Linked DNA regions of Homo sapiens. The protein of the gene in region 4 purifies or fractionates together with the protein of the main gene of each other region. This does not show direct contact. Each region holds a gene or a part of one and is shown on either strand. Other genes may lie near its edges.

Region 1 (7,024 bases), on a different chromosome or scaffold from region 4:
AGCTGTTAAAATAATGTGCATGCAATTTGGCCATTTTTTCTAAGTGTGCGGGTCTGGAGCCAGGTTTTGTCACTTAAATAATCATTTTATTTAAGCCTTTAAGCATTTTATTGGATTGGCTGCTTGTCTTTGTTTTAACTCATTTCTCTAGTTTTGATCAGTTCTCCGAAGCCAGGGTCAACCTCAGCACTGTCAACATTTACGGCTGGATAATGTTGGTTTGGGGAGCTGTCCTGCGCATTGTAGGATGCTTAGCGGCATCCCCAGCCTCTACCTGTTATATGCTAATAGCCCCCCCGACCCCTGAGTTGTGACAACCAAAAATGTCTACATGTGACAACAAATGTTCCCTGGGGAGGTGGGGGGAAAGTCACACCCACTCGAGAACCACTGTTTCTAAACCGCCCTTTTGTATTTTGCTATTTTATGTTCAACCTGAAAATGGTTAATCTGGTAATGTTACTATTCTATTAAGAAATTGATATGAAAATGTTACTGAGGCCAGGCACAGTGGCTTACGCCTGTAATCCCAGCACTTTGGGAGGCCGAGGCGGGCAGATCACAAGGTCAGGAGTTCGAGACCAGCCCGGCCAATACGGGGAAACCCCGTCTCTACTAAAAATACAGAAATTAGCTAGGTATGGTGGCAGGTGCCTGTAGTCCGGGCTATTCGGGAGGCTGACGCAGGAGAATTAGGAATCTAGGAGGCAGAGGTTGCACTGAGCCGAGATCATGCCACTGTACTCCAGCCTGGGCGACAGAGCGAGAGTCCGTCTCAAAAAAAACAAAGGTTGCCCGAGTGTGGTGGCTTACGCCTGTAATCCCAGCACTTTGGGAGGCCAAGGCGGGCAGATCCACCTGAGGTCAGGAGTTAGAAACCAGCCTGGCCAACATGGTGAAACCCTGTCTCTACTAAAAAGTACAAAAAATTAGCCAGATGTGGTGGTGGGTGCCTCTAATCCCAGCTACTCTGGAGGCTGAGGTAGGAGAATTGCTTGAACCTGGGAAGCGGAGGTTGCAGTGAGCCGAGATGGCACCACTGCACTCCAGCCTGGGCCACAGAGCAAGACTCCATCTCAAAAAAAAAAAAAAAAAGTTACTGAAACCAGAAAATCTGTTTTTTTTTAAACCATAATTTTTTTTGAGACAGAGTCTTGCCCTATCACCCGGGCTGGAGTGCAGTGGCGCGATCTCGGCTCACTGCAACCTCCGCCTGCTGGGTTCAAGCCATTCTCCTGCCTCAGCCTCCCAAGTAGCTGGGATTACAGGCAGGCACCACCATGCCCGGCTAATTTTGGTGTTTTTTAATAGAGACGGTTTCACCATAATGGCCAGGCTGGTCTCGAACTCCTGACCTTGTGATCCACCTGCCTCAGCCTCCTACAGCGCAGGGATTACAGGCGCGATGTCGGCTCACTGCAAGCTCCGCCTCCCGGGTTCATGCCATTCTCCTGCCTCAGCCTCCTGAGTAGCTGGGAGTACAGGCGCCTGTCACCACACCTGGCTAAGTTTTTGTATTTTTAGTAGAGATGGGGTTTCACCGTGTTAGCCAGGATGGTCAGCAAGACCCCATATCTAAAAAAATTTTTTTTAATTAGCCAGGTGTCTTAGACAAGGTAGAATGAATTAAAAAAAAAAAAATTAGCCAGGTGTAGTGGTGCACGCTTCTAGTGCCAGCTACTCAAGAAGCTGAGGTGGTAGGATCCCTTGAGCACAGGAGTCTGAGGTTACAGTGAGCCGAGATCATGCAACTGCACTCTAGCCTGGGTGGCAAAGCAAGACCCTGTCTCAAAAAAAAAAAAGAGTTCGGGTGTGCAAGAGAGAAGAAAAGGAGTTTGGGTGTGCAAGAGAGAAGAAAACGTTAATAGGCCAGTAAGTAGGTCTGTCAGCTTGATAATGACTTTTTTCAGTTAAGAAGAATGGAAGAATCTCATCAAGAAGCAACAGAGAAAGAAGTAGAAAGAATCTTGGGATTGTTGCAGACATATTTTCGAGAAGATCGTAAGTGTAACACCATTCAAAGTGGAGCAATTTGTATTTATCTGTTCACTGAGGTTACTTGTATTTAAAAGGCAATTTCAGCTGTATGTAATATTTGAATAAATACATATGCATTTTATGAGGATTCTTCTCCCCTTTAGAAATTTCATGTGAAAACTTTGAAGTTAACGTTTTCATTTTTATCTTTAAAAGATGGGGATTTTTTTTGTTACAAAATGAAATATGCCATTCAAGTGAGAAATGTCAAAAGTAGCTGTTCCACCTCCCCTCATTATAAAATGTAATGTGTATATTTTCAGATTATTTTATCAGTTTTATACACACCTACCTAAATAGTTTGTTTTGGCCGGGCGTGGTGGCTCACACCTGTAATCCCAGCACTTTGGGAGGCTGAGGTTGGGAGTTCGATACCCGCCTGACCAACATGGAGAAACCTCATCTCTACTAAAAATACAAAATTAACCGGGTGTGGTAGTGCATTCCTGTAATCCCAGCTACTTGGGAGGCTGAGGCAGGAGAATCGCTTGAACCCGGGAGACAGAGGTTGCGGTGAGCCAAGATCACGCCATTGCACTCTAGCCTGGGCAACAAGAGCGAAACTACATCTGAAAAAAAAAAGTTTGTTTTTTTCTTTTTTTCCAAGCTAATCATAATATGCACATTCTTCTGCTACGTGACTTTTCCATGTGGACATTCTTCCACATCATTTCATATAGATCTCCCTTGTTTTGTTCACTGATTCCCATTATATGGCTGTACTGTAAATATATTTAACAGATCCTCCATTAATGGATGATTAAGTTCCTTTTTTTTTTTTTTGAGACAGAGTCTCGCTCTGTCGCCCAGGCTGGAGTGCAGTGGCGCGATCTTGGCTCACTGCAACCTCTCCCTCCTGGGTTCACGCCATTCTCCTGCCTCAGCCTCCCAAGTAGCTGGGACTACAGGCACCCGCCACCACGCCTGGCTAATTCTTTTGTACTTTTAGTAGAACCTGGGTTTCACCGTGTTAGCCAGGATGGTCTTGATCTCCTGACCTTGTGATCCACCCACCTCGGCCTCCCAAAGTGCTGGGATTACAGGCATGAGCCACCGCGCCCGGCCAAGTTCCTATTTTTTTTTTTTTTTTTTAGGAGACAGTCTCACTCTTTCGCCCAGACTGGAATGCAGTGGCACCATCTCAACTCACTGCAACCTCCACCTCCTGGATTCAAGCAATTCTCCTGCCTCAGCCTCCTGAGTAGCTGGGATTACAGGCGCACGCGCCACCACATCTGGCTAATTTTTTTTCTGTATTTTTAGTAGAGACATTGTTTCGCCATGTTGGCCAAGCTAGTCTTGAACCCCTGACCTCAGGTGATCTGCCAGCATCGGCCTCCCAAAGTGCTGGGATTACAGGTGTGAGTGCCATGCCCAGCTGGATGATTAAGTTCTTTATAGCATTTTACTCTTGTATAAATTGCTGAAGTAAAAAATCTTAGTATGTAATTTTGTGCAGTTACACTTGTATTTCTGTAGCACAGCTTCTTAGAGGTGGTTTCCAGGTCAGTGGGCATACATGTTTTTAGTAGAGATGCCAAATTGGCCTCCAGAAGGGTTGGATTGATTTGCACTCCTGCAGCAGGAATGAGTACACATCCTTTCTTTGTCTCTGGCTAACGCTAGAGTGTACTGATATTAATGACAAGCAAAAATCAATTTTTTTTTCTCTTTTTGTCTATAGCTGATACCCCAATGTCCTTCTTTGACTTTGTGGTTGATCCTCATTCTTTCCCCCGTACAGTGGAAAACATCTTTCATGTTTCCTTCATTATACGGGTAAGATTAAAGATTATTTTTCTAATTGCTTTTATATGCTTTTAAAAGGCTACATAAGAAAAGCTGTAGAAGGGAGCTGGCAAAGGTATCTGTATACACTAGCCAGTATATGTTTCAGACCCATTGTAGCAAAACATTAATTGGCATATTAGGTAGAAGAAGCTAGCTAAAATTTTATATGCTTGCTTTTATGTTTTAGAAATTATTTAGAGAAAGAATTGGAAAAATTTGAATATGGAACTTTAGATTAGATAACAGTATGGTATAAATGTTAAATTTCCTGCATTTGATAGTTGTCATGTTGTATAATATCCTTGTTCTCAAGAAATACACACTGAAAGATTAGGGAAAAGAAGCAGGCCGCCTATCATTCTCACTTCATTCATAAATAATAATATGTAGAGTGATAAAGTAAACGTGGTAACTAACACTTTAACGACTGATGAATATGGGTAAAGGATATATGCCACGTGTTTATAGTAGTCTTATAGCCCTTTAAGTCTGAAATTATTTCAAAATTGGTTTTAAAACTCTACTCAGATATGTACCATGGAAATTTGCTTTAGACTATCTTTAATCTTACTTCAGGTTGCATTCCCACATGTAAGATGAATTTGATTATAACCTTAGAGAAAACCTATGTCTACCAACGTATTTTCTCAGAAATAATAACAAAGGCATATTTTGCCAGTGGTCCCAGTGACAGAATTATGCAGAATAAAATGTGGAGTATTCCAAAATATGTATAAATCAGTTAAAGAGACAAGATGAGTTTCACTTAAGAGATTCTCAGGATGGAGGCTGTGTCTGGGTGAAAGAGCTGATTAGAAACCCAAAGATACCCTGTGTAAATAAAAGATACTAGGGAAGTCTTATCTATATCATCACCTTATTATTGCTATGGTGTAATTTGATTTTCTGAGATACTGAATTTTCTGAGTAATTTTTTCCATCTAGTGCGTATAGGTTTGAGTCTTAAATGTTTGTCTTCTCCTAAAATCATGTTTTCGTTTTAGGATGGTTTTGCAAGAATAAGACTTGACCAAGACCGACTGCCAGTAATAGGTAAATGATACTATGTTTGGAAAAATTAGTTTTAGAGAAAATATATTTGTTAGTAGAATTTAAGTATTTTACTAAATGTAAATGAATTTTCAATGTAGATTAACTTTTACAATATTGTATCTTGCTCAACTACCTGAAGATACTGAAAACATGGCCAGCGTCTAAAATTTTGATGGATTCATCTATATCATTGATTCAACATCTGCTGTAAATATTAACAAAGAAATGATATAATTTCCCTCAGATCTTAATTTAGAAAGTTGGTGATTGCAGTCATTTTTGTAGTATCCCTCTTTCTAATCACGTTTTGTCAGATGCCGGCACCTTCTTTTCTCTTTGAGGTTCTATGAATCTTTCATTCTTACCTGAATAATTTCACACTCTCCATTACTCATGTCCTCCTAAGGTCTCCTGTGGAGAGTGAATATTTCCATCGCACTTACTTGCTACTTTCAATGTTCTCAATGTCCTATTGGACTCACTAGGGCTTAGCTCTGTGGTTGACACATAGATATGCAGATTTTCAAATGTCTGGAATGTGTTACTCTACTACATGTTTTTTGAAATGGAAACAGATGGAATGACTGGCTACTGTAATAATACTACAGCAGCTCCATAATGCATGAAATCCTAAAAAGTATGTAATATTATAAGTATCTTTTCAATACAGGTTTCATTGCTATTATTCATCAGTTTCCGTTTAGATTACCTGTTCCGATTTAATAACCTTTGATAAATTTGAAAAATTTGTCTTTCAAACAGAGCCTGTTAGTATTAATGAAGAAAATGAGGGATTTGAACATAACACACAAGTTAGAAATCAAGGAATTATAGCTTTGAGTTACCGTGACTGGGAGGTAAAGCTCTGCCTGTTGCCCCTGCATAGTTCTGACTCTGCCTTCACTTGCAGTAAGCCCAGTGCCTAAATGTTCATTATTGTCTGCCAGGAGATTGTGAAGACCTTTGAGATTTCAGAGCCTGTGATTACTCCAAGTCAGAGGCAGCAGAAGCCAAGTGCTTGATGCTAGCTGAAGGTAACCTTTTCAATGGGATGGCTACACAGTTCTATTAAAGTTCATTTGGCAATCCAAAGTATCCCTTTTCCCCATTCCAGTGAAATTTGAATTTTTGCCTCCCTGTAGTGCCCCATTCTTAGAACTGTGTGTAACAGGTGAGAAAGGGATAGTGGTTCTGCGTTCCCTTCTCTGGATTGATTAAATTTGTGCTGTTAAGATTTGCAGCTGAGGCCAGGCGTGGTGGCTCACGCCTGTAATCCCAGCACTTTGGGAGGCCAAGGCAAGCGGATCATGAGGTCAGGAGTTCGAGATCAGCCTGACCAACATGGTAAAACCCCATCTCTACTAAAAATACAAAAATTAGCTGGGCGTGGTGGCATGCACCTGTAATCCCAGCTACTCAGGAGGCTGAGGCAGGAGAATTGCTTGAACCCGGGAGGTGGAGGTTGCAGTGGCTGAGATCGTGCCACTGCACTCCAGCCTGGGAGACAGAGCAAGACTCTGTCTCAAAAAAAAGACTTGCAGCTGAAAGAAGCAGTGCAGGATTGTTCTTGGTTTGGTGGGTTTTGTTTTTGTTTTTGTTTTTAATAAAAAATAGGGAAGGGGTCTCACTATGTTGCCCAGGCTGGTCTCAAACTCCTGGGCTCAAGGGATGCTCCCATCTCAGCTTCCCAAAGTGCTGGGATTATAGGTATGAGTCACCATACCCAGCTGCTGCTTTTCCCCCAACAAACTGGTAAATTAGATAAGTGAAATATTGAATCCTCTCATCCATGTTGTTGTTCACCATCCCATTAGATTTGCTTATTTTATAAGTACAAAGCAGAAAAAGAGGATTAGGATAGAATTACCTTAGAATAATCTTGGTAAATTGGCATTTCTAAAATTTGTATTAGGCTATGAAAGAATTCTTCTTCATTTTTATGAAGGGTAACATTTCTAGAAAGAAATCTTAATAATGATCTGACATTTTGTAGTGCAGACAGTTGTGGGTGGGAATCAGAAGACCTAGATTCTATCGGCTATGCCCCTTACTTTATTTATTTATTTTTGCCCCTTACTTTAAAACCTTGGGCAAGTCACTTAATCTCACCCAACTTCTCTTTTTTTTTGAGACAGAGTCTTGC
Region 2 (7,792 bases), on a different chromosome or scaffold from region 4:
GTGGGTGTCTTTACTCTTGTACTACATGGCTCACTTACATCAGACATCATATTTGTATACCCTGAGAAATCTGACACTGAAGTCCTTACTCTATGGTCCACTTCTCCATTAGAGTTAGTGATAAAGGTCATTGGCACCCTGCTGCCCGACTTAAACTGAGAACCAAACGCTTGTGCAAAGTTCTCAATCTGATACGTTGTTCTAGGCTCTATGTCTTTCTGAGGATCTATCTGGCTAGCTAACTCCTGAGATGGAATCTGAAAGCCTGTTGAAGACTCTAAGTTTTTCTGTTCCTTCTGGCTAGTCAATTTCTGAGATGAGGACTGGAAGGCTGATGAAGTCTCTAAGTTCTTCTGAGAATCTATCAGATCATCCAGCTCCTGGGAAGGTGTCAACTGCTGATGTGTAGCATCCAAAGCAGACAAATAAAGACCTGGCTGAGATCCAAACAACATCCCAAAAGGAGGCTTTGGCAATGAAGATGGCAACACTGAGGTAACAGATTGGCCGAAACCACACTCCAAAGGAGACGTAGTGTATATTTGTTTTTCTGGAAACAAAGTGTGGTTGTGGAGAGGTGAAGACAAACTGACAAATTGGAAACCGTGTCCAAGAGTAAAACTTGCATTAGTGGATTTTTCAAAAGCCTGTTGGAGGTATTTGGAGTATTCTTGCAACATACTTGCTTTATCATTTGAAGGTGTTTGGGTGCCTGGGCTCAAATTTTCTTCTTGAACCAATTCTGAGTGTTCTCCTGAGGTGTGTAAATCCACTCGTGGTTCTGCAATATTGAAAGGATCCTCTTTCTGGCTTTCTGATTTGTTGGAGTATTGATCCAAAATACTTTGTAAAACCTCATCAGGAATTCCAGACTTGTCATGACAAGATTTAATTTCAGCATTTAGAGCTGAGGAGTCAATAAGTGACAATGGTGCCTCATTGTCCAAAACACTGACACCTGCAGACTGAATGACAGACTGTTGGGAGACCATGTGTCCTACGTTTATAGAAAAGGCACTGTTGCTGCTGGCAGTTGGTAAATATCTTCTTTTCTTTGAAAACTGCATGGCATCATCATAATTACTACTTATCTGACCTTGTTTGCCACTTGTACTTTGGAGAAGACCAATGGTCTCCACACTATTATTTGATACTATGCCAAGTGAGCCACTTGGTTTTCCAGACAAGGATTTCTGTCCTACTATGTCTGGTAATGGTGACACAAAGTTAAGGTAGTTTTTATCTGTATTCTTTCTGCTTCCTTTCTTAAAGATCAATTTTGGCACCCTCTTCTGCAGTTCATCTATTCCAGTGCCAATTATGCCTCCACTGGAAGACACGGTAGGCATTTCTACTGAGTAACTCTGCATGTTTATATTATTTGAAATTTGCGATTCATTTGTTTTACCGGTCTTCTGTTCCTTATTTTCAATAGCTATGCTTTTTGACTTTGTTTTTCTCCTTGAAGAACTTGTATTTCCCTGAGACAACACAGCCAGATTACCCATATTGGTATGGTTTGATGACCCAGGTTCTGCACTAGTGGCTCCTTTAACTATGACTTCACCACATGTGCGCCTGTGCTTCAACAATCTATCAGTCCTTGAAAAATACTGTTGGCAAGTGTCACACTTATATGGCTTTTCTCCACTATGTGTCCTCTTGTGTCTCTCCATATGGTACTTCTGAATAAACTTCATGCTGCACTGATCACATCCAAATGGCTTCTCTCTACTATGAATTTTCTCATGTCTCTGTAGTAGGTATTTCTGAATGAAACCCATACTACACTGGCTGCACTGGAAAGGTCTTTCTCCTGTATGAATGAGGACATGTCTCCGCAGGTGATAGGAGCTTCGGAAAGCAGCACTACAGTGATCACAGATATGAGGTTTCTGACTTGGGGAGAGGATGGCACCTTCTCCATCTCCAACCAAAGAAGGTTTGGAAGATGCACTTGGCTTCCTCTTGGCTTTGATTCCCTGAGATTCTGGCTTTGGCCTTTTTGCCTTTTTGACATTAGTGTCCTGCTTTGGCTCCTCAGTGCCATGGTGGTCATCAGTCCTGCTACTGCTGCTGAGTAATACGTCACGGTGGTGCTGGGCTGGTTGCTGCTGGACATGCTGGTGGAGAATACTGAGGTCCTGGATGACGCCGTGACTCCCCCCTTCACCGCCTCCTAGGCCTGGAGACCTCTCTTCAGCTCCAGCGAACAGCCCCCCATAGTGGTGGTGGTGATGGTGGTGGTGGGACTGCTGCTCCTCAGGATCCGCGGGTTTCTCCTGTTTGATGCTAACCAAAGACTGCAAGAACCCCCAGGAGGTCCTCTGCGAGGGGAAGGCCGCGGCTGACGCCGCCGGCTCCTTCTTGAAAGTCATGTCCGGGGCTGGCGGAGGGGGGGGCTCAGCGGCCGGGGCTGCGGAGGTAGAGGAGGATAACACGCATTGCGGGGGAGGGGCGGCCGACCCCGCCGGCCGGGTGAAGCTGGTGACCGGGGGAAGACGGTGGTTGAACATAACCATACCCTGGGGAAAGGTGGGTTCCATCTCTGCCCTCCTGCCGCTGCTGCCGCCGCCGCCGCCGCCGCCACTACCACCGCCGCCGGAGCCGCTACCACCGCTACTGCCGGTACCTCCGCCGCCACTCAGGAACCCACTGCCGATTTTCATACCCCGGAGGAGGCCTGGCTGAAGAAAGGAGGAGGAAGAGGGAAGAGGGAGGAAAGGAGGTGGAACCGGGCCCCGGGCCGGGACCACCGCAGCGCTAAGGACCCCGCCGCGCCGCCGCCCAGACCGCAACGCGCCCAGCACTAATTCCCAGCCCAGTCGCCTCCGGCACCGGCACGCATGGTCCTGCGACTCTTCCCCAGGCCTCGCCCTCTCCCTCCTGGACCCACCGGCAATACTTACGGGTCCCGCCGCCGCCGCAGCCGCCGTCGCCTCCAGTTAATAAAAATAACGCCGTCCTCTCCACAATGGAATTAAAAGCCTCCCGTGTACTGCGCAGCCGCGGCGCAGTGTCTGCTGGGAACTCCTCGACCCGGCCAGAGGGGAGGGCTAAGGAGCCAGGGCGCCTGCGCCGCAGCTTCCGCCCGGCCTGCCTGTCAATCACTGGGGCCGTTGGGCGGAGGCGGGGGAGCAAGGGCAGGGGAGGCGGGGATTTGGAGCCCTGCTAAAAAGGGGCTTTCGAGGCGAACAGGCGTGATTGGTGGGCTGCACTGAAGGAGATGAAAGTGGTTGAGGGTTTCTGGGGGAAAGACGCTCAGGAGGTGGAACCCAAGGGGCGGGAAGTTACGGGGGACTGTACTACAGCGTGGCGTGGGAGATGCAGAGAAAGGGGCTGGAAGAGAAGGTGAGGGAAACTGAGGATTCAATGTTAGGGCTTTCTTCACTCTAGGTTTTGCAATCCAGGTCTTGAAATAAAATTCAAACCTAGAAGTGGATCATTGAGGGCACTTTTGATTCTATCAAGAAGCATTCAACTCCAAATGCTCAACATTTATTAAAACAGGTGCTTATGTTATCCCTTTGAATTTGGAAGCACTAATAATGGGCGCATATCCTTTGCATTTATGGGAGGAGCCTGCTTTGAAACCGCAATTAGTGGTACCGTTGCAACAAAAAAAAAAAAAAGAAAAAGAAAAAAACTTGTCTTACTGCCAACCTTCCTGAAGGCTACTGGAAGAGGAAACCGAGCGTAATCCAGGTGCAGCAGTCCTGTAAAACACGCCCACACACATACTTCATTATCATTACATCTTATTTAAATGCCCCCGTACCTTAGCCTGGCTAATCAGTCTGTTTGCCACGTTATGAATGCCTGGCCCTTTATATTGTTTATGAAAAATTAACCACCAGGCCATTCTAAGAGCTCTGCTAGGATCAACTCTTTCCTCGCCAGTACAGAATACCGAGAAACTCATTGCAAATTTAGAAATTTTTCTTGTAAGGGAAAATTATGAAGTAAAATCTTAAAATCAAAGTTATATCAACAAAATCAAACAACAAATATTTATTCAGTGTCTAATGTACACAAGGCACTCGATTTCATGTTAAGCATGCAGAAATCTAAACCAGACACTTTCCTAGCAAAGGATATTTATAAATGAGAAATTTTAAATAAAAGAACTAGAACTATGACAACAGCTTATTTACATAGTATGTTTTCTTAATGAAGTTACATGTACATCACAATGTTTCTAGCTAAATAACTTCTCATAATTAAATAATAAATTCTCTGGGAAATTTCACAATCGAAACCATAGGGATTATTTACTAATACTTATGGACCTCTCTCAGCCTGCCCTAAAAATTTTACAGACAATATTTAATGAGAATTTTGAGATAAGAAGAAATTGCTTTTTTTCTAATCCCATGAAACAACATGTAAGTATTCCACCACTTAAACTGACACTTTAATACTGTCAAGTATAGTTGTGATATTGTGAAATATATATTTGGACTTTGAACCGTTTTGTGGCATACAACTGCTAAAAATCCTTGGAATCTGCAAAGTAATAAATGTCTTTTTGTATGCTAATGAAGCGACTGATGATGGCTGGCAACCCCTAGGTAGCTTCAGGATGGGGGCTGGTCACCGGAAAGACCAAGGCAGGATTAGAGTTTGGGACTTTCAGTCCCACCCCCCGACCTCCGGGGAGGAGAGAGGGATTGAAGGTTAAGTTGATCTTCAATGGCCAATGATTTAATCAATCATGCCTGTGTAATGAAGCCTTCATAAAAACCTAAAAAAGGACGGGGTTTGGAGAGCTTCCTGTAAGCGAACCCGTGAAGGTTCCAGGAGGATGGCGCACCCGGAAAGGGCGTGGAAGCTCCGCGCCCCTTCCCACAGACTTTCCCCCATCCATCTCTTCATCTGGTGTTCATCGATAGCCTTTGTAATGTCCTTAATAGTAAACCGGAAAACGTAAGTGTTTGCCTGGGTTCTATGAGCTGCTCTAGCAAATTAATCAAGCCCAAGGAAGGGGTCATGGGAACCCCGATTTACAGCTGGTCAGTCAGAAGCACAGGTAAAACTACCTGGGGCTTGTGATTGGCATCTGAAATGCGGCCGGCCAGTCTTGTAGGCCTGGGCTCTTAATCTGGGGGATCTGATGCTGTCTCCAGGTAGGTAGTGTCAGAATTGAATTGGAGGACACCCCAGTGGTGTCTGCTGCAGAATTGATTGCTTGCTCGGTGTGTGGGGAGAAACCCCTACACATTTGGTCGCAGAAATCTTCTGTGTTGATTGTTGAGTGAGAGTATAGGAGAGGCTGAGTTGTTTTTTTGTTTTTGTTTTTGTTTTTTTCTACAATAGCTAAGTGTTAAAGACTGAAAGTTCAAAAACTTAAGGCAGTCGTAAAATATTAGTCAACGCCTGTGAGAAATGAGGCTGTCCCTTTATTCAGGGTGTCAGTGTTTAATGGTAAGCTGGGATGCATATAAGCTAGTCCAAGCATGAAGGGCAGTAGGACACTCATATGAAAAGCCAACTTTGTTCCTCAGTTATCAAGATAAGAAACCTGTCATTTCTCTCATTCACTCTGTCAGCCTTGAGATACTCCAAGCAGACTTACCTCTGTGTTGTACACCCCATATATCAGGAAGATGAAGAGACCCTGTAAAATAAAATGGAGGGGAAAAGCTGTTAACGCTAATCATTTCAGCAGTAGAAATACCTGAAATAAACTTTCCTGGGAACAGACAAAAGAAGACACACTTCATCAAGGTCAATTTATTTTCCTATTTTTCAACATTAGAAGGTGTACCTTGAGCATTTATATGATAACATAGCAAGCACATCACTTATAATGGTTGTGCTATTCAATTCTTTAGAAGTACAAAATAAAAATACCATCCCAAGTACAAAGAATATTAATTAGAAAAATCAATATACCAGTTCTGAAAGATAGCTGGGTAATGAAAAAATTAAACTCAGGAAATGTTATTAAAGTAATCATAGAAATAACACTAAGCATCAGTATTTCCAAGCACTGTTTTAGACTGTAGCAACTAGAATATATTTGTTACAATCTTCAACAGGGTTAAAATTAAAAAAAAAAAATTATAAAGCAGCTAAAAGAATAAACTTAAGGTAATAAGTATGAATAGGTTTTGAAATAATACTTGAAATACCAGCTCGAGATAAAATTTCACATTACCATCTGTTGTGAACTGCATACATTTTTATTGTAATCTATATATGTAACAAATATTCCAAAGATGTTGATTAGTCTTTAGCTTTAGAAAATGCTTAATTAATTAGAAAATATAAATTCACTTTTAACTCTAAAATCTTAACTTTTAAAAGAAAATAAAACTATATGCTTTAAACTTAGAGAAAACAGACAGCAAAAAATTTTCACTTCAGTGAGGAAATAAAAATCTACATTGTAGTATTCTTGTTAGGTACTAACAAGCCAAATATTAAATAGGAGTCTGTACTAAATCTAGAAATGGTTCAAATAGTTAAGTAATATGATTCTTTCAAAAGTAAAATATTAAAGGAATATTTTAATATTTGTTTATCTCTGAATGCTTAGATTTTACAGATAATGGAAACAATCCCAGAACAAAGAGATTGTATAAAACTAGTGATTCTTGTTTTTATTTAGTTTCTTTTTAAATAGACTTTGTTTTTTACAGCAATTTTAGTTTTACAGAAAAATTGATAAGATAGTACTCAGGCTGGGCACGGTGGCTCTTGCCAGTATTCCCAGCACTTTTGGAGGCCGAGGCGGGCAGATCACCTGAGGTCAGGAGTTCAAGACCAGCCTGGCCAACATGGTGAAACCTCGTCGTTACTAAAAATAAAAAATTTGCCGGGCGTGGTAGCACATGCCTGTAATCCCAGCTACTAGGAAGGCTGAGGCAGGAGAATCACTTGAACCCGGGAGGCGGAGGTTGCAGTGAGCAGAGATTGCACCACCGCATACCAGTCTGGGCCACAAGAGTGAAACTCCGTCTCAAAAAAAAAACAACAAAGAAAGATAGTACTAACAGTTTGCATATATCCGATACATCCCCAGTTTCCTCTATTTTTAACATTTTACATTAGTATGGTATATTCATTATAACAAATCTAATTCAATACTACTACCTTTATAATTTCTGAAACTAAAACTGTTGCAATACATACATTTGTTTTAATAAGAATGATTAATGAAGAGTTATGAACAATAAACAATTTCCATTTTGATAATAAACTTTTAAAAATTCAACTATAGCTACACTTTTTTTTACTGTGTATACACGATGTCCCAAAGTTCAATACCAACACTCACTTTCCTCCTTCCAGTAGCCTTGGTCAAGATCCATTTAGTGCAGACTAAATTCAAGCCACTCAGTACTTGAGTTTAGTACTCATTTTATAGGCTACTTGTTTGCTCCAATTCTGGATAATTCTAAATAGTTAAGAAAAAAAAATCTTTTTTCTGATTTATGTAAAAACTCTAAGATAATTAAGAGTCCCTCTTCCCTCAATAATTGTTAATTTTTTATTCCTTATTTTGCTGCATAAATAAAAATTTAAGAGTAAGTCATTCAAATTTTAATTCTATTTATGAGATAGGAATATTTTGCTTTGTACAATAGATGAGTTCCTGAACAAATAAAATTTCCTGAACAAATAAAATTTCCTGAACATTGAACAACATGCATTATTATTTCCGTATAAGAAACCCAGCTGTTTATGTGAAATCTATATGATGCTTTGAAAATCAAAGAGCTAACCAGGTGCAGTTGTTCACACCTGTAATCCCAACTCTTTGGGAGGCTGAGGCAGGAGGACTGCT
Region 3 (7,024 bases), on a different chromosome or scaffold from region 4:
TGAAGCAAATAAAAATGAATGTATTGATTAAAAACACGTGTATACAATACATACACATAATTATAAACACATACATTTATTTGCTAGATATAAAAGGATGTTCACTGTAAATTTTTAAAAAAATCTAAAATAGATATAAATTTTCTGATAATTAAACAAATATAAAATTATAAATATGTGGAAATAAACTTAGTAAACATATATACTAAAATGTTAAAAGGAGTGATGCAGAAGAGTGGGAGTACTGCAAGCGACCATTGTTTCTCTTTTTGCTTAGTACATTTCTTGATTTATACAATGATCATCTGTTTAAACTATGACGTAAGACATTTTAAAACTAAATATTTTTACATATTAAACTTAAGATTATTTAAAATTCAAGTCTCATCGTTATCAATAATATCTTTCTGAACTTCTCCAAGTGACTTTTTAGATCTTAAAATCACCTCATTAAAAAGCAAAAATGAGTAATGAACTATATTCTGCTTCTCTCAAAGTTTAGTTTCACATGGCATTTGAGCTTTGATAACCACTACAGCAGCTATTAGGAAAATTTTAAATCACTGGGGATAGAGGGAGCATTTCTTTTGTTTTAACTAATTTAAAGAACTACACTTAATGCATGTACTTAATCATTTTCCTTTCTCATTGAGCCCAGAATTTAACATACCAGTCAGATTCAATTTAGGAATAGGCAATGGCTCTGTTGGAACAGGATGGTACGAAAACAAGGTAAACATTCCTCGTCCTACAGGAAGAGCCATAGTTCGCTGACACAATTGGAGCAATCTGTAATTAAAGTAAAAACCAACATATGAAAATGTTTAAAGCAAAGAGCAATTGAAATATCATCTGTAAGTATTTCAAAAGAAGGTGTACTGTATAAGATGAAGTTGTCTCAAAGTAAATTCATACACAGATGTGAGTGAACTACCCAAACATGATTATTTTCATTTTAATATTCTTGTTCCTATTACACTCTTAGGGAGAGACATATTTCCTCTGTTTTGTTTCATATTTACATTGAATGAAAACCACCTGGCCTATAAACCCAGCCGACTCTCTCTAGGCATTCAAAAAAAAAAAGAAATTTAAAATTCCACTCCGATGGATGCTAACCTTCTCAAAGGAAAATACAGTACTTTTGGGGTTTTTATCACTGTGTTAATTTCAGTCTAGCTGTCCTCAGTACATGTGGGATCCTCCTCCCATCCCTTTTGCCAATACAGCCTCAGAAGTACCATTTCTGTGGCCTGTACACAAGAAAAGAAACAAGGTCCTTGTGTTAGAGGTGAATGGATTTCATGGTGTCTCCAAGGGAAATACAGATTGGTTTCACTTACATGATGGCTAGATTTATAGGACTAATACCATTATGTATCAGGTATGTTCAAGGTTAAAATGGTTTCTGTTGGCTCTACTGTGAAATTAATACACCACTCTTCAACTTCTTCCTATGTTAAAATAGCTTAACATTCCATATAGCCACTTAAAAAAAACTAACAGAAATTTTGGAAGTAGGGCATTTATAACTAAGAAACGCCTATACAAGCTATATCTGAAGACACAGAAATATCCCTTCAGAGGCTGACAACTGACAAACATTTTCTCTGCAGACAAAGCTATTCATAAGCATACTCCCTCCTTAACTGGACACACATAACTGCTTTTCTAGCTAACTGGAAAGAAAAATTTTGCTGTCTTAAAGATTCTCTGGGAACACAACCGCAACATTAATTTGGGATCAGGAAAATTCAAAGCCAAGAGGCTGTTGCAACCCATAGAATTTTTTTAGAGGAAATCTTACACATAATTCACTTCAACTTTGCGCAAGTAACAAAATTATAATGAGAACAATATTATATCCCCTGAATATAAGATGCCACTGATAAGATGTATCATTATTTCATGAGAAACTAAGAAAGAAAAAGCACTGCCAATTAAACTATGACACCTGTTCACTGAAATACACAACTGATTTCAGAGATATTAAAAAGTGAAAAAACTTGCATCTTAGAATCAATGAACTCTACTACTAATAATGGCTGACTGCACTGAGCTTTACTATGTATTGAGCAGTATTCTAAGTGCTATGTAAAAATAATTCACTTGATACACAGCACCATCCCATGAAGTATGCCTACTTTTACAAATGAAGCAACTGAGGCAACAAGAGGTAAAGTAATTTAACCAAAGTCACCCAGCACAGCATGGCCATGCCTGGCTCTAGAGGCCATGCTCATAAATCCTATGCTCTAAACTCAACTTCTGTCACTCCATCTTTTTATTCACAGGTGACTAATAACTGGGTACATGTGGAGAGGAAACAGTTAATAGGGAAATCACAACTAATTCAGATCTTCAGCAGCCTGTGGCTAAGTGTGGGTGATGGTTCCCCTCAAAACAGTACCATAAAAAAAGTAAAGAGAACTAGAAAACAGTGGCAGATGAATGATAGATGATAGAGACAAGCAGATAAAAGAACAGGAGAGAATTTTAAAACAGAAGTGTCCCAAGAGAATAGCTCTGGAATGTCATAGGCATGTGAGTCTTATAATGTATCAAGGGATGTATCCTGTGCAGGGGAGTGGCAGAAGAAAGGCTTATCTATTTTTATTTGGAGTATCATCTATCATATCCAAAAAAAAAAAATACTCATACAAGTTTAAACTACACTAAAAACCCCACTAACCTCAAAATCTATTCCTGATCAAGACACAGAAAAACAAGTCCAGTGTTTTCTTTGTTTGTAAATTCTTAAGGTAACTATCAGGCAAAATAGTTTTACATTCACCTTTTCTAAAGAGTAAAGTGTTATATGTATTTCAAGAGGAGGACGATATGAAATACAACAATTACGTCCTCAAAAGCCAAAGACATTTTGCTAACACACGTGGTTTGTTGAAGTTGGATGAAAACTTAAAACACAGGGCATATTTTCACTTGAAAGTATCTTTTAAATCTCTTTAGGGTTTTAAATGCTAAAAACTTGAAGGAAAAACAAATATACACAAGACACAAATGTAACAATGAAACATGACAAGAGATAGTGCACGTGTTTTCTTTCACCTGTTTTCCTTTTCCTCGATGAACTCGTGGTCACTGAGCTCTGGGTACTGCACTACGTTGACACGGACAGGATGCGCACTCTGAAGAAGCCTTCGCACATCCTGCACCCTTAAATCTTCACTCCATATTAATGACATGACCTCGTGATTCATGTCATTCATGCCGTCATCTTCCTCCTCAGTTTCTGTTCCTGAAGGAACATCTGATGAGAGCACCTGAGTAACAGACTTTATTGTAATAATAATTTCAAAAGCAGTTAACATGCACTTGCTGAACATGAGGATATATAGGCTGATGTGTCTTGACTATACTAGCACAGAGAAAATATGTTTTCCAAAGCAGGCATGGGTTGGAGCCGCAATGTATACTGGGACTCTAATCTACAAATCTTTCTAAAAAGTACTATATTGCTGGCCGGGTGTGGTGGCTCACACTCTGTAATCCCAGCACTTTGGGAGGCCGAGGTGGGCGGATCACCCGAGGCCAGGGGTTCCAGACCAGCCTGGCCAACATGGTGAGGATGATTTAAAAAGATAATTGGAGAGTAATGAAATAATTTAACTTTCTACTTGCAGGATTCCTAGAACTCATTTGAAAAAAAAAACAGACTTGATGATTGATGAAAGACAGTATTTCGGGAGGGATAGCTTAAGACATGTTTTTAAACAACTCTACTGAAAAAAACACATTTTTTCCCTGGGGCTGCAGTTTTATGTGATTAAACAAATATGTTTACACCTATTTAAAAGGTTAAATTCAAAAAATTCAACACATCAAAAAATATGCAGTAGAAAATATTTATATATAATTACTCATCCAAATTCAGGATATATGTGCTCTCCCTTTTCCTATGTAATAATTACAAAGTGGTTAATTACTAATATGGTACAAGTAGGGAAATAGCCATGGTAGTTTCCATGACTACCCTCAGGACTTGTCCTGATTCAAGGCAAAGAAAGATCCAGGCACAAGACAGAACATTCACAAAATCTCCTGCTCCTAATGCTCATCTTAACAATTAATAAGACGCGTACAATTACAAACCCCGTCTGGCATATAATATAAAAGACAAGCTAATATATATACTTAGAAAAAGCCTTAAAGGAAAATGAAGAACATTTCTACTTTATGATTTTATTTAAGGCTAAAATTGGAACTCTGAACTTTCTATGTTGATACTCACAGACTTCCCTTTGGGTAAGTTTCCTTCGCAGGCCTGCTTGGAAAGATCCTGACGTCCAATCAAGAGACAGACAGCTTCTGGCCAGTCTGAGGCAGGCTGCTCACGACAGTGATAAATTGCATCTCTGATGGGAAGAGCAATTCCAAAGGGAAGAGTTTCCAAATCTCTTAAAGTGAATCCTAATGGTTAAAGGAAGAGAGAAAAATTTTAATTTAGACTCGCCACTGTCCCAATTATCCTGACTGAAGTTGGCAACAATATCTATCCTGACAAATAAGTTCATTTTATTCATCTTACTACCAGACTAATGTCTTGACATCAAGGACTAGTATAGGAAGTCTCTTTGAAAGAACTTGTAAAAACCTGAAGAAAAAAAGACAATCTAATAGAAAAATATAAAGGACAAAAAGACATTTCCTAGAAGGGGAAACATAAATGGGCAACATGCATATGAAAAGATGCTCTACCTAATTAGGGATCAGGAAAATGCAAATTAAAGCTACTGAGAAATATAAATGTCAAAGCCAATCAATACTAAATGTTGGCAACTATGTAGAGCAATAATAATTCTTTTTATTCTTTTTTTTTTTTTTTTTTTTTTTTTTTGAGATGGAGTCTCGCTCTGTCGCCCAGGATGGAGTGCAGTGGCGCGATCTTGGCTCACTGCAAGCTCCTCCTCCCGGGTTCACGCCATTCTCCTGCCTCAGCCTCCCGAGTAGCTGGGACTACAGGCGCCCGCCACCATGCCCGGCTAATTTTTTTTGTAATTTTTTTTTTAGTAGAGACAGGGTTTCACCGTATTAGCCAGGATGGTCTCGATCTCCTGACCTCGTGATCCACCCGCCTCGGCCTCCCAAAGTGCTGGCATTACAGGCATGAGCCACCGCGCCTGGCCCAAGCAACAATAATGCTTATCCATAGCCAATGGTAGTGTAAACTGGTACAACCACTTTGGAAAACAGTTGGTATGTATAGGTCAATCCACCCATTTGATCCATCAACAGCCATATAGAAACTTATACCCATGTACAAAGACACAGGTATAAAAATATTCATTAGCAATACTGGTTTGTTATGGAAAAAAAAAAAGAGATGGAGAAAGGGGTGAGTCCGATTGTCTATCATCAATAGAATGGGTAATTAAATTATGATATGTTCAAACAAAGTAATCTCTATATCAGAGAAAATGAATGGCCCGCTGCTACTGCTACATGAGTCGACATGGATGAATCTTTAAAAAACAAAGTTGAGTGAAGAAAAAGGAACACATATTTACATCTATATATTTTCAAAACTACATAAGACCTAGCAATTTATAAAGATGTAAAACTATAAAGAAAAACAAGAGTAAGGTAACACAAATGTAGGTAGGGCAGTGGTTCACTATAACATTGGGGTGTGTGACAGGAGGGGACCATCCAAGAACAGATATGTAAGGGCCTTCTACTATGCGGGTAATATTCTATTTCTAGGGGTGGGTGACCAGTACATCAATACTCACTTTAGTACCATTCTCTAAACTAAACATATACGTTTGACATATTATTTTGTAAGTATACCATATTTCATATTTAAATTTATCCTCAGGTTAATTAAATCATGTTTTTCTTATGATTTTCTAAATTTCATAATACTATGCATTATTTATAATATAAAAAGTCGATTAACTATTGAGGCAAAAAATGTTTCCTTATATGAGAATAACACTTATTAAATATTATGCAATATACAAATGGATAGAACTAATCCAATATTTTTCAGCATAGGTATCCTGTATGTATACTATGCAACAGTTATTGTCATTTTTAAGGTAAAATGCAAAAAAAAAAAAAAAAAACCTGTCAGAAACTTCATTTAGAACATACTTTAGATAAGACTTCAAAAACATCTTTTAATATTCATTAAAACTTTACTTTTTAACATACATCCCATATAACATCCTCATTTTTAAAATCATGTCTTCGTGGCAGTAATTTTTGTTTTTCAGTTCTTTGTGAAAAAAAATTTCTTTGGTATTTTACTTAATTTAAAACCTAGGAGCATAGGTTTGGGGAATAGGGAATATAGAACTCTTTTCCTTCCTCTTCCTCTTCCCAGTTCAATGTTCATCTTGGTGCCTGAAATCCCTTCAAAAGTGCATTTATCCTTCAAAAGTATACCCTGAAATGTTTATATTATTGCTTTTAGACTTTGCCAAAACCACCCATTTCTGATATCTGAGTATCACAATGATTTCAGGTGTGTATGTAGGTGATTAGAGTTCTCCATTCTCAGAGACCAGCTTACATAGCCACAGCCTCAAATGTTCCAATTAAATGGCAAATAAAGATTCCTTATGCATCAAGATAAAAAGCTGGTATCCCAAATATTATTATATGAAAGTTGTGAGATTGTCGAGAAAAAAAGAATATGGCTTGATGAACCATAATCTCAATCTTGTGAGGCCTTTTCACAAAGCCAGAGCCCCTCTCTCCTCATGCCTTCCACTTCTAGCTAGTCTGGAGGAAGCACGGCCTAGTTAGGAGGTAACAAAGAAGCTCTCACCTACATTAGTCATCCAGACAACCAATCTTTCAGCTAGACTAGAAACAGATGTAGAATGCCTGAAACTAAACCTATAAGAGAATAAAACATAAAGTTATTAAGCAGAACAGTAAATAATATTGTTTTAAGTGTTTGACATAAAAGCACAGTCTAAATAAAAGTCACCTGTTTTCCTCTTGTTCTACTTGCAACTTCTGGGGGGCTAAAAGGCAACAAAATGAAACTTAA
Region 4 (6,891 bases):
GTAGAGACAGGGTTTCACCGTGTTAGCCAGAATAGTCTCAAGCTCTTGACCTCGTGATCCACCCGCCTCGGCCTCCCAAAATGCTGGGATTACAGGCATGAACCACCGCGCCCGGCCAGCAATGAATTTACTTTCTTTCCCTGTGTGCTTGCTTGCTTCCTTTCTTGTAATATAATAGGCAGGGTTTTCTGGTGTTTGTGTTAGAAAAGGTTCCCAGCCAGGCGCGGTGGCTCATGCCTGTAATCCTAGCACTTTGGGACGCCAACGCAGGAGGATCCCTTGAGCTTAGGAGTTTGAGACCAGCCTGGACAACACAGGGAGACCCTGTCTCTATTTTATGTAACTACATTTAAAAGATAAAAATAAAAAAAGTTTTTAAAACGTTCCATACTAGCTCAGTCTGACGTTGGAACCAGAAGTGTTTTTATACATAAAGGGCACATCCTGATGATTTCCCTAAAAATCTGCAGACAGTCTCAATGGTGAATGAAACTCTATTGTAGGAACAGAATGGTGTGGGCTGCTTAGAAACAACAGTTTTCTTTTGTTTGTTTGTTTTACATACAGGGTCTTGTTCTATTGCCCAGGTTGGAGTGCAGTGGTATGATCACAGCTCACTGCAGCCTTGACTTCCTGGGCTCAAGCAATCCTCCCATCTCAGCCTCCCAAGTAGCCAGGACTATAGGCATGTGCCATCACACCCAACTAATTTTTAATTTTTTTGTAGAGACTGGAGGGGGTCTGTCATTGATACAGGAGTGGGGCAGGGAAGTGCTGGGTAGAGAAAGGCAGGGTCCCTGGTGAGGGCCCCACCCATGGACCCAGGTGAAGACAGGCACTCCTGTTTTTGTGCCCAAATGTTGCATTTTCCAAGACCACTCTGGCCCGCACACCCCCCATCTTGTGCCTATATAAACCCCAATACCCTAGTGGGCACACATACAAATGGCTGGATATGGAGAGGAACACATCAGAAGAACACACGGACGCTGACAGGCCATCAACTGCAGAAGGATGCGGATGCCTAGGGAAATTCAGCTGAGGGTGGTTGAAGGAGAGCCAGGCAACTCCAGGGGAAGACCACCTTCCCACTCCATTCCCCTTCTGTTTCCCCATACATCTGCTGAGAGCAACCTCCACCATTCAATAAAACCTTGCACTCATTCTCCAAGCCCATGTGTAATCTGATTTTTCCAGTACACTAGGGCAAGAACCCAGGATACAGAAAACTCTCTGTCCTTTCAATAAGGCAGAGGGTCTAATTGAGCTGATTAAAACGAGCTGTCTACGGACGGCTAAACTGAAGAGCACACAGTAACACACGTCTACTGAGGCTTCGGGAGCTGTAAATACTCAACCCTAGATGCTGCTGTGGGGTTGGAGCCCACGCTCCCCACTACCTGCCCGTCTGTATGCTCCCCCTAGGGTTTGAGTTGCAGGGCACTGAGGAAGCAAGCCACTCCCCCGCTGTCACACACCCTGCTAGGGGGATAAGGGAACTTTTCTTGTTTCATTACTATGTTGACCAGGCTGGTCTTGAACTCCTGGCGTCAAGCAATCCTCCCACGTTGGCATAAGTGCTGGGATTACAGGTGTGAGCCACTATGCCTGGCGTAAACAACAGTCTTCTCAGTGCTTTGACTCATCAATATTTCAAAATATTTTGGGTCCATGCTTGAGCAGGGGGTTAACATGGAGAAGACAATGGGGGCTGTGAACTTGTGAAGAGGGGGCTATCACTTGAGGGGAGGACTGGACTTGCTTACTTGCTCCTGAAGGCAGACTGGTACTGGAAGGGGAAACTCTGGCTTCATGAGGCAGAAACTTCTCCAAATCATATTAACGTGGTAGCAGCTCTTCACCCCAGGATTTGGTGATCTTGATACCTGGTTTGTTTGTTTGACCCCTGTTCAAGCCAACAAGCCAGGTATCAAGACCACAAAAATACAGTTTTTTTCTTGGGTGAGGAGAGAGATTTTTTGTTTGTTTAGACAGGATTTCTCTCTGTTGCCCAGGCTGGAGTGCAGTGGCTCACTCATGGCCCACTTCAGCCTTGAGCTCCTGGACTCAAGCGACCCTCTCACCTCAGCCTCCCTAGTAGCTAGGGAGGACTACAGTTATGCGCCACCACACCCAGCTAATTTTTTTTTTTTTTTTTTTGTAGAGACAGGATTTTGCCATGTTGCCCAGGCTGGTCTCAAACTCCTGGGCTCAAGCAATCCTCCCACCTCAGCCTCCCAAAGTGCCGGGATTACAGGCGTGAGGCACAAAAATACTGTCGATAGCCAGAAAAATAATGTCTTAGCAACTCACATCCATGTTAGTTGTTTGTTTCTAGGTCTTGCTAGCTCAAATTCCACTTATCCGTCTTAATCACCATCTAAAAGATGCCTTTGTTTTTGAGAATCCATGTGTTTGTGTAGGTTCACCACTTTCTTTTAATCTTCTGAATACCTAAAATAAACCTTTGAAATCTAGATCACGCACAGTCTAGGTTGAGATGAGAGAATACTGAGCGGATGGTTGTGTATGTATCAATGTGTAGAAAAAGGCATCCATCGTTATGGCAACCAGCATCCTTAACTGATGCAATCCTGTTCCCAATAATATGAGATGTGATTAAAAATTGACATTGCAGCAAGGAAGAACACATGCAATGCGTTGGCGTGGCAACCGGAATAGTTAAATTCTGCATAAATTTAAACCTGTCGATCACAGCAATTTGGAGAATTTGCCTACATTTCATTAGGAACCCTTTTCTCATCTGGCCTGGGAGGGAATCAGGAGCCTGGTGGTCTGACATGTGGCCATGACTTAAGGCCAAGTAAAATCAAGGGATTAAATTAAATCATTGGTGTGGGAGAGGGGCTGGATGGTGGACTGTACCAAAAGTTACCCTGTTTTCATCTGCATACCCTACATCATTTAGTCACTCAACAGATATTTATTAAGCACCCACTCTGTGCCCCGCTCTGGGCTAGGTACTAGGAATACAAAAACTAATATTTCCTACCCTCTTGGAGCTTGAAACCTCTTAGCCTCTGGAATTACTCAAATCTATGTGAAGTGCCAGCTGTGGTATGTGTAAGCGAGACAGGTATCTTGTGTTACCAGAACCAATAACAAGGAGATTTGATTAATTAGAGAGATCAGGTGGAGGCGAAGAGATCAGTCAAAGTGAAGCAGAGAGGGGCAGTGATTGCTACACCACCACAGGAACCCAAACTGAAAACGACCATACGCCATGAAGTGGGTGATAGTCTTTACCAATGTCGAAATGGAGGACCTGGGGGATACTGATGTTACCCAGCCCTTCGCAGTGGGGTCACCCAAAAGTAGACGCGGCTAATGCCGCTCTTTATGCCCGGCAGGGCCAGGACCAGAGTCCCCGCACGAGGGTTCCTCTCTCCGGTCGCACGTGCCCTTCACCCTTCCTGAGGCCGTTTTCTGACGCTCCTGAGCTCCCCTCCAGGGTGAGGGCAGGCGCGGTGGGAAGGCGTTGGACAGAGCAGACACTCGGCTGGGGTGCATGCCTGGGTGCAGCCTCGTCTTTTGTCACTAACCACTCAGCTCGGTAGCCCTCCAGGCTCTCTCTTCGAGCTCCGCGGTCCCTGCGCCCCCGCTGCGCTCTGCTAGCTGTGATGCAGGGGTTCGGGGGCAGGAAAAATCTCGACCCGCCACGCCCGTGCGGCAAACCTGTCCTAGGTTGAGGGGGCATGAGGCGCGCACAACCAGGGCCTCGAAGGCAGGCAAGAGGGCGCGGGCGCCACAGAAGCCTGGGCCTGCGCCTGGGCCGGGCAGATGTGCCCGGCGCTCGGGCCCCGCGCTCTGCGTCCTGCAGGGAGGCGGACCCGCCCCCCGAACGCGCAGGCGCGCGGCGCCCGGCTCGGACCGTAGCTAGGCGCTGGGCGGCCACCGGCTGGCCAGGCAGGTAAGCAACCAGCGGTGCGTGGGCTCAGACCTTGCGTCCCCTGGGCGCCGCGCCACCCCGCTCCGTCCAGGGCGGCGAGGGCTCAGGTCTGCGGCCCCGGCGTCTCGCTCCTTCCGAGCGCCTCCGGCGGGGGGCGCGGGCTGGGGAGGAGGTTCGGGAAAACGCCGGGGAAAGCGGTCTGGGCGGAGCGCGCAGGGGGCCAGGCGGGTGCGGGACTCCAGGCCCAGCCGACCCTGCGGCGTGGCTTCGGGCTGCGATCAGGAGGGGCGAGGAGGGTGGAGGCTGCGTGTTTGGAGATACGCAATCAATTAAGAGTTTTTTTATTAATGGAAAGGTGTGGAGGGCGGGGTTTTGGTTTTCTTGGGAAATGAATGAGTCATTTGGCAAACTTTCCTACCATTAATTTTGGATTTTTATAATGGAATATGGAATTTTTTTTGTTTCTCTCTCTTTTTTTTTTTTTGGCCATAAAGAGAAAGAATAAAAAGAATTCCGCCATTTTAGCGTTTTAAAAAGTAACCGTTCTGCGGAACTGTCGGATCAGTGACCGCCCCGCCCGCCTTTGCCTATACCAGTCCCGGGAGGCTGGTGGCGGGTCCCGATCCTGGAACCCTGCGCTCAGGGCCGCTTCCGTCCCCTCCCGAGTCCGGGAAGCAGCTGCGGCGAGGGGCGGGGCCGAGGCCCCAAGTTTGTAGCGCTCAGCCTTGCTGTGTGTTGTTTTCTGGGTAGCTGTCGAGGGCTCTACTCCCCACCCAACACCTATAGTAAGGACATTTATTGGTCGTTTTTGTATACAAGGCCTTGGAAGGCAAGGGATTGAGAAAACCTTGTCAGACATCAAGAGAAAATACCCATGGACACATTCAGCCAACAGATATTTATTGAGCATCTGCTATGTGCACGGCTCTGGGCTGGGGCTACAATGGTTGTTTTAGGTCGGGTCCCCCGAAACAGACTCCGATAGCAAGATTTGAGTGTAGGTTTATCGGAGTGCTCTTGCGAATATCACCAGTAGGGGAATGACGGGTTGGGCGGAAGAAGAAGCTGAACTGCTGATGTAGTCTCAACAGAGGCCTCAGCCTGACCTAATGGAAGCTCTGGAACTGAGATGGCCCTGCAGAGGTGTTCCAAAGTAAGGCAAGGGGGTGGGGTCTTTACACCTCATAGCAACTCGTCATTGGCTGGCGGCTTCTAGGAGAGCCTTCAAGTGAGGTAGCTCCCTAGGCTCAGAGCAGTTCCAAGAGAGGCTGACGGCAGAAGGCTGAAAACTTTCTTCAGTGTCCACCAGAAACCCAGACTCTTCTGAGTCCCCCCTCACTTCATGGCAGACTCCTTCTCAGTCCCTTTTGCTAGACCCTTTTCCTCTTCCCAACCTATAAATGTGGGTGTGCTCCAAAGTTCCCACTTTTTTCTTTATACTCAGTTATGTGGTTTTTTCTTTTTTCTTTCTTTCTCTCTCTCTCCTTCCTTCCTTCCTCCCCTCCCCTCCCCTTTCTCTCTGACAGGGTCTTGCTCTGTCGCCCAGGCTCGAGTGTAGTGGTGTGATCATAGCTCACTGCAGCCTTTACCTCCCAGGCTCAAGCAACCCTCCCACCTCAGCCTCCCCAGTAGCTGGGACCACAGGGGTGCACCACCATGTTCAGCTAATTTTTAAAATCTTTTGTTGAGGCTGAGGCCTCACTATGTTGGCCATGCTGGTCTCAAACTCCTGGGCTCAAGTGATCCTCCCACCTTGGCCTCCCAAAGTGCTAGGATTACAGGCATGAGCCACCAGGCCTCGCCCCAGTTCTGTGGTTTTAAATGCCATCTACACATGCTGGTCTTCAAATTTATACCTCCAGCCCCAACCTCATCCATTATCTCCAGAATATAAGCTTCATGAGAGCATTTTGTCATGTTTGTGACTGTAACCCCAGAGCACAGAATGGTGGTGACACCTACTTGGTCCTCCCATGCTTGCTGGAAAAGAGGCAGCGAACCCAAACAGAAACGTAGTCTTCAAATCCAGCTTCTTCAATAGACCTGAGATGTGACAGGTTTTGACACAGAGTGAAATTCTTTCAGAAGTAACCACATTCACTCTTAACTGCCAGTGTTTCAAATAAAAAGATTAACTCTATTTATTTATTTATTTATTGAGACAGGGTCTCATTTTGTCACTCAGGCTGGAGTGCAGTGGCGCGATCTTGGCTCACTGCAACCTCCACCTCCTGGGTTCAAGGGATTCTCCTGCCTCAGCCTCCTGAGTAGCTGGGATAACAGGCGTGTGCCACCATGCCCAGCTAAATTTTTGTACTTTTGGTAGAGATGGAGTTTCAACATGTTGTCCAGGCTGGTTTTGAACTCCTGGCCTCAAGTGATTGGCCTCCCAAAGTGTTGGGATTACAGGTGTGAGCCACCACGCATGGCCTGCCTGGCTAACTTTTGTACTTTTTGTAGAGATGGGGTTTCACCATGTTGCCCAGGCTGGTCTCCAACTCCTGAGCTCAAAGCGATCCACCCACCTTGGCCTCCCAAAGTGCTGGGATTATAGGCGTGAGCCACCACGTCCAGCCTAACTCTAAAGGTATTTAAAATAGTACAAGTACTTCAGCTGTGCAAAGCAAATTGGAATTGAAATTCAGGGAATTATGTTTTATAATTTTCTTTCTTTCTTTCTTTCTTTTTTTTTTTTTTTTGAGGTGGAGTCTTATTCTGTTGCCCAGGCTGGAGTGCAGTGGCATGATCTTGGCTTACCGCAACCTCCACCTCCTGGGTTCAAGCAATTCTCCTGCCTCAGCCTCCCAAATAGCTGGGATTACAGGCGCCTGCCACCACACCTGGCTATTTTTTTTTTATTTTTTTGTGTTTTTAGTAGCAATGGGGTTTCACCATGTTGGTCAGACTGGTCTTGAACTCCTGACCTCAGGTGATCTACCCACCTCGGCTTCCCAAAGTGCTGGGATTAGAGGCGTGAGCCA

What was found.
Region 1: the proteins of L3MBTL1 (region 4) and NSMCE4A purify together in Homo sapiens (affinity purification with mass spectrometry; 2 studies listed by BioGRID and IntAct, with this or other methods). This does not show direct contact.
Region 2: the proteins of L3MBTL1 (region 4) and ZNF281 purify together in Homo sapiens (affinity purification with mass spectrometry; 3 studies listed by BioGRID and IntAct, with this or other methods). This does not show direct contact.
Region 3: the proteins of L3MBTL1 (region 4) and ANAPC1 purify together in Homo sapiens (affinity purification with mass spectrometry; 5 studies listed by BioGRID and IntAct, with this or other methods). This does not show direct contact.

The regions. Positions count from the first base shown.
Region 1 is NC_000010.11:121,958,215-121,965,238, reverse strand, and holds part of NSMCE4A (non-structural maintenance of chromosomes element 4 homolog A), read left to right. Parts: intron 1-1,910; coding exon 1,911-2,001; intron 2,002-3,131; coding exon of another isoform or gene 3,132-3,238; exon of another isoform or gene 3,239-3,486; intron 3,487-3,721; coding exon 3,722-3,816; intron 3,817-4,832; coding exon 4,833-4,881; intron 4,882-5,020; coding exon of another isoform or gene 5,021-5,046; exon of another isoform or gene 5,047-5,640; intron 5,641-5,643; coding exon 5,644-5,738; intron 5,739-5,828; coding exon 5,829-5,903; 3' UTR 5,904-5,915; intron 5,916-7,024. UniProt on the Homo sapiens protein: Component of the SMC5-SMC6 complex, a complex involved in DNA double-strand breaks by homologous recombination. The complex may promote sister chromatid homologous recombination by recruiting the SMC1-SMC3 cohesin complex to double-strand breaks.
Region 2 is NC_000001.11:200,407,037-200,414,828, forward strand, and holds the start of ZNF281 (zinc finger protein 281), read right to left. Parts: upstream 3,001-7,792; 5' UTR 2,910-3,000; intron 2,688-2,909; 5' UTR 2,670-2,687; coding exon 1-2,669. UniProt on the Homo sapiens protein: Transcription repressor that plays a role in regulation of embryonic stem cells (ESCs) differentiation.
Region 3 is NC_000002.12:111,818,170-111,825,193, forward strand, and holds part of ANAPC1 (anaphase-promoting complex subunit 1), read right to left. Parts: intron 6,999-7,024; coding exon 6,962-6,998; intron 6,868-6,961; coding exon 6,797-6,867; intron 4,432-6,796; coding exon 4,253-4,431; intron 3,297-4,252; coding exon of another isoform or gene 3,285-3,296; coding exon 3,070-3,284; intron 1,254-3,069; coding exon of another isoform or gene 1,232-1,253; exon of another isoform or gene 1,120-1,231; intron 790-1,119; coding exon 671-789; intron 1-670. UniProt on the Homo sapiens protein: Component of the anaphase promoting complex/cyclosome (APC/C), a cell cycle-regulated E3 ubiquitin ligase that controls progression through mitosis and the G1 phase of the cell cycle.
Region 4 is NC_000020.11:43,503,814-43,510,704, forward strand, and holds the start of L3MBTL1 (lethal(3)malignant brain tumor-like protein 1), read left to right. Parts: upstream 1-3,883; 5' UTR 3,884-3,931; intron 3,932-6,891. UniProt on the Homo sapiens protein: Polycomb group (PcG) protein that specifically recognizes and binds mono- and dimethyllysine residues on target proteins, thereby acting as a 'reader' of a network of post-translational modifications.